Homo sapiens: one gene and its partner. The protein of the gene in region 1 purifies or fractionates together with the protein of each later gene. This does not show direct contact. Each region holds a gene or a part of one and is shown on either strand. Other genes may lie near its edges. The genes, in order: SLC68A1 and GNA11.

Region 1 (3,384 bases):
CAGTGCCAGCTGCATGATAAAATCACCTACAGAGATGTTCAAAATCCTACTGCCCAGGCCATACCCCAGACACATTAAGTCAGAATCCCAAGGAATGGAACTGAGATGTCAGTATTTTTTAAGTTCCCCAGGGGACCCCAAGGCTGAGAACCTCGGGCCTAAAAGAGGCTCCTCTCTCTTTGACTACCATGTCCAGCAGTGATACATGGGAAATGCACTGAGGCCTAATGGTCATTTTGGGCCCGAGTGCCTATGCAGTTACCAATCTATGTTTTTCTCCCTGGCATCTTGGTAACCCACCAAGGTGGGTTTTTTTTTTCTTTGAGATGGAGTCTCATTCTGTCGCCCAGGTTGGAGTGCATGCAGTGGCGCGATCAATGCAACCTCCTCCTCCTGGGTTCAAGCGATTCTCCTGCCCCAGCCTCCCAAGTAGCTGGGATTACAGGCACACACCACTACACCTGGCTAATTTTTGTATTTTTAGTAGAGATGGGGTTTTGCCATGTTGGCTCAGGCTGGTCTCAAACTCCAGACCTCAGGTGATCCACCCACCTCGGCTTCCCAAAGTGCTGGGATTACAGGCATGAGCCACTGCGCCCGGCCTACCTACCACTCTTATTCAGAAAAATGCTCTCAGGGGCTTTTTCTAGTCAGTAAGGAATCCTGGTTCTCAACCCCAGCAACCCACCACTCACTCACACAGCACAGACTTGAGGAAAAAGAATGGCTGACTTTAATCAGTCTATAAGGAAATAAACATCTTTAGAGGCCGTGTGGGGGTGGGGGAGCCCTGCAGCAGAGGAGGCATGCCACTTCAAGCACAGCTGAAGCAGAGAAACCTCTCAGAGAAACCACTAGAAGGGTGGACGGAGTGGGAGGTGGGACTTACAGTCAGCTTTCCCTGACTGGGCAAAAGGGAGCAGTTGCAGTATTAAAAGTGGTTCCTGAGTCCACCACAGCGGCCAGCTCCAGTCAGGCAGCGGGATGGGCTCCCACGCCCCATGGCAGGCCTGTGTGCACCACAGGGCAGCCCCCTCCCTTCTTGGTCCTCTTCTGTCCTCCTGCCTTACAAGAGAAGCACGTCCCTGAGCACATATGGCCCAGCCCTTGCCCAAGCTGAGCCAGACAGGTAAGCAGAGACTTTCACTGCAGTGATGCTTCTGGCTCAGCCCCAGGAGCTACCCGCTGCCATGTCTTCCAGGCTGCACTAGAGGAAGGCAGTGGAGCAGGGTGCTGGTAAAACTAGCTCCTGGCCGAGTGCGGTGGCTCATGCCTGTATTCCCAGCACTTTGGGAGACCAAGGCAGGCAGATCACTTGAGGTCAGGAGTTCGAGACCAGCCTGGCCAATGTGGTGAAACCCTGTCTCTACTAAATAATACAAAAATTAGGTTGGCCACAGTGGCTCACGCCTGTAATCCCAGCACTCTGGGAGGCCGAGGCGGGCTGATCACCTAAGGTCAGGGGTTTGAGACTAGCCTGGCCAACATGATGAAACCCTGTCTCTACTAAAAATACAAAAAGTAGCCGGGCATGGTGGCACGCTCCTATAATCCCACCTACTCGGGAGGCTGAGGCAGGATAATTGCTTGAACCTGGGTGGTGGTTTCAGTGAGCCCAGATTGCACCACTGCAACAGATCCATTTTTTTGGGCAACAGCTCCAAAAAAAAAAAAAAAAAACTATGAAATCCTTAAAAAAAAAACCAAAAAAAACTGGCTCCTTCCCCAGGCTGCCAGCAGCATCCTCAGTGGGGTGACCTTGCCACAGCTCTCACACCATCTTAACATCCAGGGTTTGGGCCTGTGACAGGTTCTGGCGCTGGGCCTTGACCATGTGCAGGCGTCTCCCATGCAGCGTGAACTGGGACCAGGTGAAGAGCTGCAGCAGAGCACAGGTGATGGGCACCAGCACCAGCAGGTAGAAGCAGCCCTGGCGGAGCGTCGGGGCCTGTGCAGGGGCTGGAGCTGGGGGCTCTGGCCAGGGATGGGCACTCCCCACAGGGGTTATGAGGGACTGCTGGAAGAGGTCATGACCTAGGACAAGAGAGCACAGAAAGACCATGGTCAGCCCACTGTCCTCCAAGCCTTGGTGCCCTCCAAGTCTATGGTGTGACATCTCAGACACCACATGGACGTGTCCAGACCACAACTCCTGATTCCTCCAAACCCACTCCTCTCCTACTCTTCCCATCTCAGTGACGGGCACCACCATCCACCCAATAACTCAGGCCCAAAACCTCAAAGTCCTCCTCAGTTCCCTGGTTGGTTTCACGCCATCACTCCCCAACACCCAATCCTTCATCTCCCCCCAACTCCAAAACGTATCCCACCTGCCACCACCCTGGCCCAAGTCTCCACGGCCTCTGCCAGTCTCCCAAAGATGTCCCTGCTGTCCCCATTCTGGCCTCCCTATGATCTGCTGTCCATATGGCAGCCAGAGTGAACTTTTTTTTTTTTGGAAAGAGGGAGTCTCGCTCTGTCACCTAGGCTGGAGTGAAGTAGCACGATCTCCACTCACTGCAACCTCGGCCTCCCAGTTTCAAGCGATTCTCCTGCCTCAGCTTCCCAAATAGCTGGGGCTACAGGCATGCGCCACCACACCCAGCTAATTTTTGTATTTTTTAGTAGAGGCGGGGGTTTCACTATATGTTGACCAGGCTGGTCTCAAACTCCTGACCTCAGGTGATCTGCCCTCCTCAGCCTCCCAAAGTGCTGGGATTACAGGTGTGAGCCACCTCACCCAGCCCAGAGTGAATTTTGTTAAAAAGTCAATCACACTACGTCACTTCCCTGTTTAAAACCCTCCCTGGCCGGGCGTGGTGGCTCATGCCTGTAATCCCAGCACTTTGGGAGGCCAAGGTGGGTGGATCACCTGAGCTCAGGAGTTTGAGACCAGCCTGGGCAACCTGGCAAAACCCCATCTCTACATAAAATACAAAAAGTTACCCAGGCATGGTGGCATACGCCTGTGGTCCCAACTACTTGGGAGGCTAGGTGGCAGGCTCACTTGAACCTGGGAGGTCGAGGCTGCAGTGAGCCAAGATCGTGCCACTGCACTCCAGCCTGGGTGACAGGGAGACCCTATCTCAAAAAGTAAATAAATAAATAAATAAAAATAAAACCCTCCCAACAGCTTGCTTCCAACACTGCCCTGATCAACAAAGTCCTCTTCGCTTTTCCAGCCACATTTCCTAATCACCCCTGACACCCTGGGCCTTTGCGCCTGCTGTTCCCTCTGCCTGCGATTCACTGAGACCTTTTCTAGACAAATCCTTGCCATTCAGCTCACATCCTGAGGGGCACCTTCTCGGAGAGGCCTTCCCTGATAATACTACATAGCTTCTTGGTCACGCCATCTCACATCACCTTAATTTCACCATAACA
Region 2 (3,808 bases), on another chromosome or scaffold:
GCCTGCAGGAGGTACATCCTCAGGTACACTCAGCACGCCACCACTAGGAGGGGCCAGAGTCCGCCCACTGCTCCCACTGAGCCAGCTTCCAGAGGAGAAAACCACCCTCCCGACTGGACCCGCTGGCCAAGATCTGGAGAGGCCAACCAGGAGGAACGAAGTCCGTGCCCCAGCTTCCTTTTCCCCGGTGGGAAAGGAAAACGGAAGAAAAGGAGGCTCCAAGCGCCACAAGAGGGCGCAGCCCTGACAGCAGGAGCTGGGGGCTCATCCGATGCTCAAGATTCAAAGCCGGGCGCGGTGGCTCACGCCTGTAATCCCAGCACTTTGAGGCCGAGGCAGGTGGATCATTTGAGGTCAGGAGTTCAAGACCAGCCTAGCCAACATGGTGAAACCCCGTCTCTACCAAAAAATTTACAAAAATGGCCAGGCATGGTGGCTCACACCTGTAATCCCGGCACTTTGGGAGGCCAAGGTGGGCGGATCACGAGGTCAGGAGATCGAGACCATCCTGGCTAACACGGTGAAACCGCGTCTCCACTAAAACTACAAAAAATTAGCCGGGCATGGTGGCAGGCGCCTGAAAGCTGAGGCAGGAGAATGGCGTGAATCAGGAGGCGGAGCTTGTGGTGAGCTGAGATCGTGCCACTGCACTCCAGCCTAGGCGACAGAGCAAGACTCTTGTCTCAAAAAAAAAAAATTTACAAAAAAAAAAATTAGCTGGGTGTGGCAGTGGGCGCTTGTAATCCCAGCTACTCAGGAGGCTGAGGCAGGAGAAACGCTTGAACCCAAGAGACAGAGGTGAGCAAACATTCTACCACTGCACTCCAGCCTGGGTGACAAGTGAGACCTTGTCTCAAAAAAAAAAAAAAAAAAAAAAAAAAAAAAAGATTCAAGGCCGGGCGCAGTGGCTCACGCCTGTAATCCCAGCACTTTGGGAGGCCAAGGCAAGCGGATCACCTGAGGTCAGAAGTTGGAGACCAGCCTGGCCAACATAGTGAAACCACATCTCCACTAAAAATACAAAAATTAGCCGGGTGTGGTGGCATGCGCCTGTAATCCCAGCTTCTCGGGAGGCTGAGGCAGGAGAATCACTTGAACCAGGAGGCAGAGGTTGCAGTGAGCCAAGACTGCACCACTGCACTCCAGCCTGGGCAACAGAGTGAGACTCTCTCTCAAAAATAAATAAATAAATAAATAAATAACAAATAAAAAGTATATAAAGATTCAAGTAACCCATGACCCCAGTGGCAGGGCTGAGACCTGGGAGCCGACACCTGGGAGTCAGACTTCCAGGGTTCCAGGCTGCTTCCCGTCTACGACGCCTGAGCCGAGCCCCACAGTGCCCAAGACTGTGAGATGTGGGCCGAGAAGCCAGGAAGCCCCCACCAGGCTGCGGGGAGGCCAGGCCAGTGCACACACCGGGAGCAAGGCCAGAGCCACAGGGCCCCACCTGGGGGATACACATGACCGTTTGTCAGCACCCATGAGAAGGCGGGTGGTGGCAGCCCACGCGTGTGCATGCGTGTGCCTGTGATCTTGGCTCTTGGAAACAGCCAGGAAATCTAACCCTGACCAAGAGCTGTACTGGTGGGTGTGGGGTCAGAGCCAGGCACCAACCTGACGCAGGGGCCCGAGGAGGGGCAGCCCTCCTGCAGCGGAGGACGGACGCCCCTCATCCAGCTTCACAAGGGGCCTCATGCCTGCTTCGCTTCAGTCTCAGAACCCCAGGAGGTAGACAGCACCTCAGCGCCTGATTGACTGGAGGGGAAACTGAGGCACGGAGAGGACAAGCTGCCTCCCTGAAGTCACACGACCCCTAATGGCAGGGCCTGAAGAGACTTCGGTCTCCTGGCTCCGCAGCTTATCCCCGGCAGGCAGCCCAGGACGTGCTCTTCTGCTCCAGCACGCACCCTCAGGCAGGGAGGCAAGAAGACAAGGGGGCGCCCTGAGAGAGGAAGTGCACCCGGCTCACCCCGCTGCTGAGGCTCAAGAAAGAGCTGCCCCGAAACTCACTACCCCAGGTGGGGCATGACAGCCAGGGGCAGCGATGGCAGGACAGCCTCTGGACTGGAACCCAATCCCATCTCCACAGCAGCAGAGTCCCCAGGTGCCTCAAAGGTGCAGATACTAACTGCCCCTCGCCGGTCAGGGGCCATGCCACCTTGTTCTGTTCCCACTGAGGCTTCCGTGCAGACTGGCTCCCAAGTGGGAGTGACCCCACCCCTCCACTGGAAGCGGATGGTGTCACTCACTCATGTTTTCTACGTTTTTTTTTTGTTTGTTTTGTTTTGTTTGTTTGTTTGTTTTTGAGACAGAACCTCTCCCTCGGTCGCCCAGGCTGGAGTGCAGTGGTGCAATCTCGGCTCACTGCAACCTCTGCCTCCTGGACTCAAGTGATCCTCCCACCTTAGCCACCCAGGTAGCTGGGACTACAGGTGCACATCACCAAGTCTGGCTAATTTTTTGCATTTTTAGTAGAGACAGGGGTCTCGTCATGTTGCCCAGGCTGGTCTCGAACTCCTGGACTTGAGTGATCTGCCTGACTCGGCCTCTCAAAGTACTTGGATTACAGGCATGAGCCACCGCACCTGGCCATACAAAATTTCTAAGCTCCCGTCTCCTCACGTGCTGGGTCTTCCCACAGCCATTACTGAAGCCCCCCGACAGCCTGGGAGACTGGTCCCCAGCCTTGTGCAGCCCATCTAACCCAGTTGTGGGCACTGGCCTGGACATCTCCACCTGAGGGACAGGGACAGACCCCCGCCCCTGCCCAGCTCACTGACCATCGCCAAAGAGTGTGGGATAGGATCACTGATGGGGGAAGGGCAGGAGTCCGGAGCCCAGGCCCCCTCTCCAGACATCTACCCAGGCCACCAGCAAGGGCCTGACCGGTCAACCCTCGCCGCATCCAGTGGGACTAAGGCCGAGCAAACCAGTGTGGCTGGAGAAAAGGCTGCTTCATTCATCCCACAGCGTGGACCCGGCCCCACAGTCCCTGGGGGCTGCATTCATCCCACAGCGTGGACCCAGCCCCACCACAGCCGTGGGGGCTGCACTCATCCCACAGTGTGGACCTGGCCCCACAGTCCCTGGGGATTAAGACAGGCAACAGAACAGCCACATCTCTGCAGGCCGCACAAGTCCCGCTCGGTGGCGGGGCCCAGCACCCATCAGTGTGGACACGGTTAACAATAGCAACAGACACAGCGCCCTCCAGTTTGACCACACCCTTCAGCCCCCCACCCCACTCCGTCCCTGCAGGGCCCCTGAAACATCAGGGTGACCACACAGTTTGACAGAAGAGAAAACGGAGCCTGGGCCACCGGACGGTGCGGTACCCAGAACACCAACTCCGAGGTCAGACAGGGACAGAAACCTGGGCCAGCACCGTCCCTCCTGGAGCCTCCCAGGCCTTGGGGTCCCCATGTGGACGCCATCCAGGGAGCACCACCGCCCAGGGTTACTCCGCAGCTTTTCGGTGCAAAGCAGCCAGCAGGAAGGGCAGCCACAGGGGACAAGAGGGCTCCCTCCCCGCTGTCTGCCGCACTGGCCTCAGCTCATTTAATCCTTCCACAATCCTACAGGGGGAGGGACAGCCTTCCCACGTGACCGATGGGGAAACTGAGGCCGGGAGAGGGAAGTGACTCGCCCCTGGCTCCCTCCAGAGTGTGCCCCCACTGCCCCGTGCTGGCCAGCCCAGGGCAGCCCAGGCCACAGGCAGGACTCAGAAAGAAGCTTCTGAGAGCCAGCTGCGCACTGTCCCCGGAGACCCCTTCTGCCCAGTGCACAGGCCCACAGGCAGGTGGCA

Evidence for each region.
Region 2: the proteins of SLC68A1 (region 1) and GNA11 purify together in Homo sapiens (affinity purification with mass spectrometry, with the first as the bait; one large-scale study listed by BioGRID). This does not show direct contact.

The regions. Positions count from the first base shown.
Region 1 is NC_000010.11:102,474,372-102,477,755, reverse strand, and holds the end of SLC68A1 (transmembrane protein 180), read right to left. Parts: intron 2,035-3,384; coding exon 1,772-2,034; 3' UTR 711-1,771; downstream 1-710.
Region 2 is NC_000019.10:3,100,598-3,104,405, reverse strand, and holds part of GNA11 (guanine nucleotide-binding protein subunit alpha-11), read right to left. Parts: intron 1-3,808. UniProt on the Homo sapiens protein: Guanine nucleotide-binding proteins (G proteins) function as transducers downstream of G protein-coupled receptors (GPCRs) in numerous signaling cascades.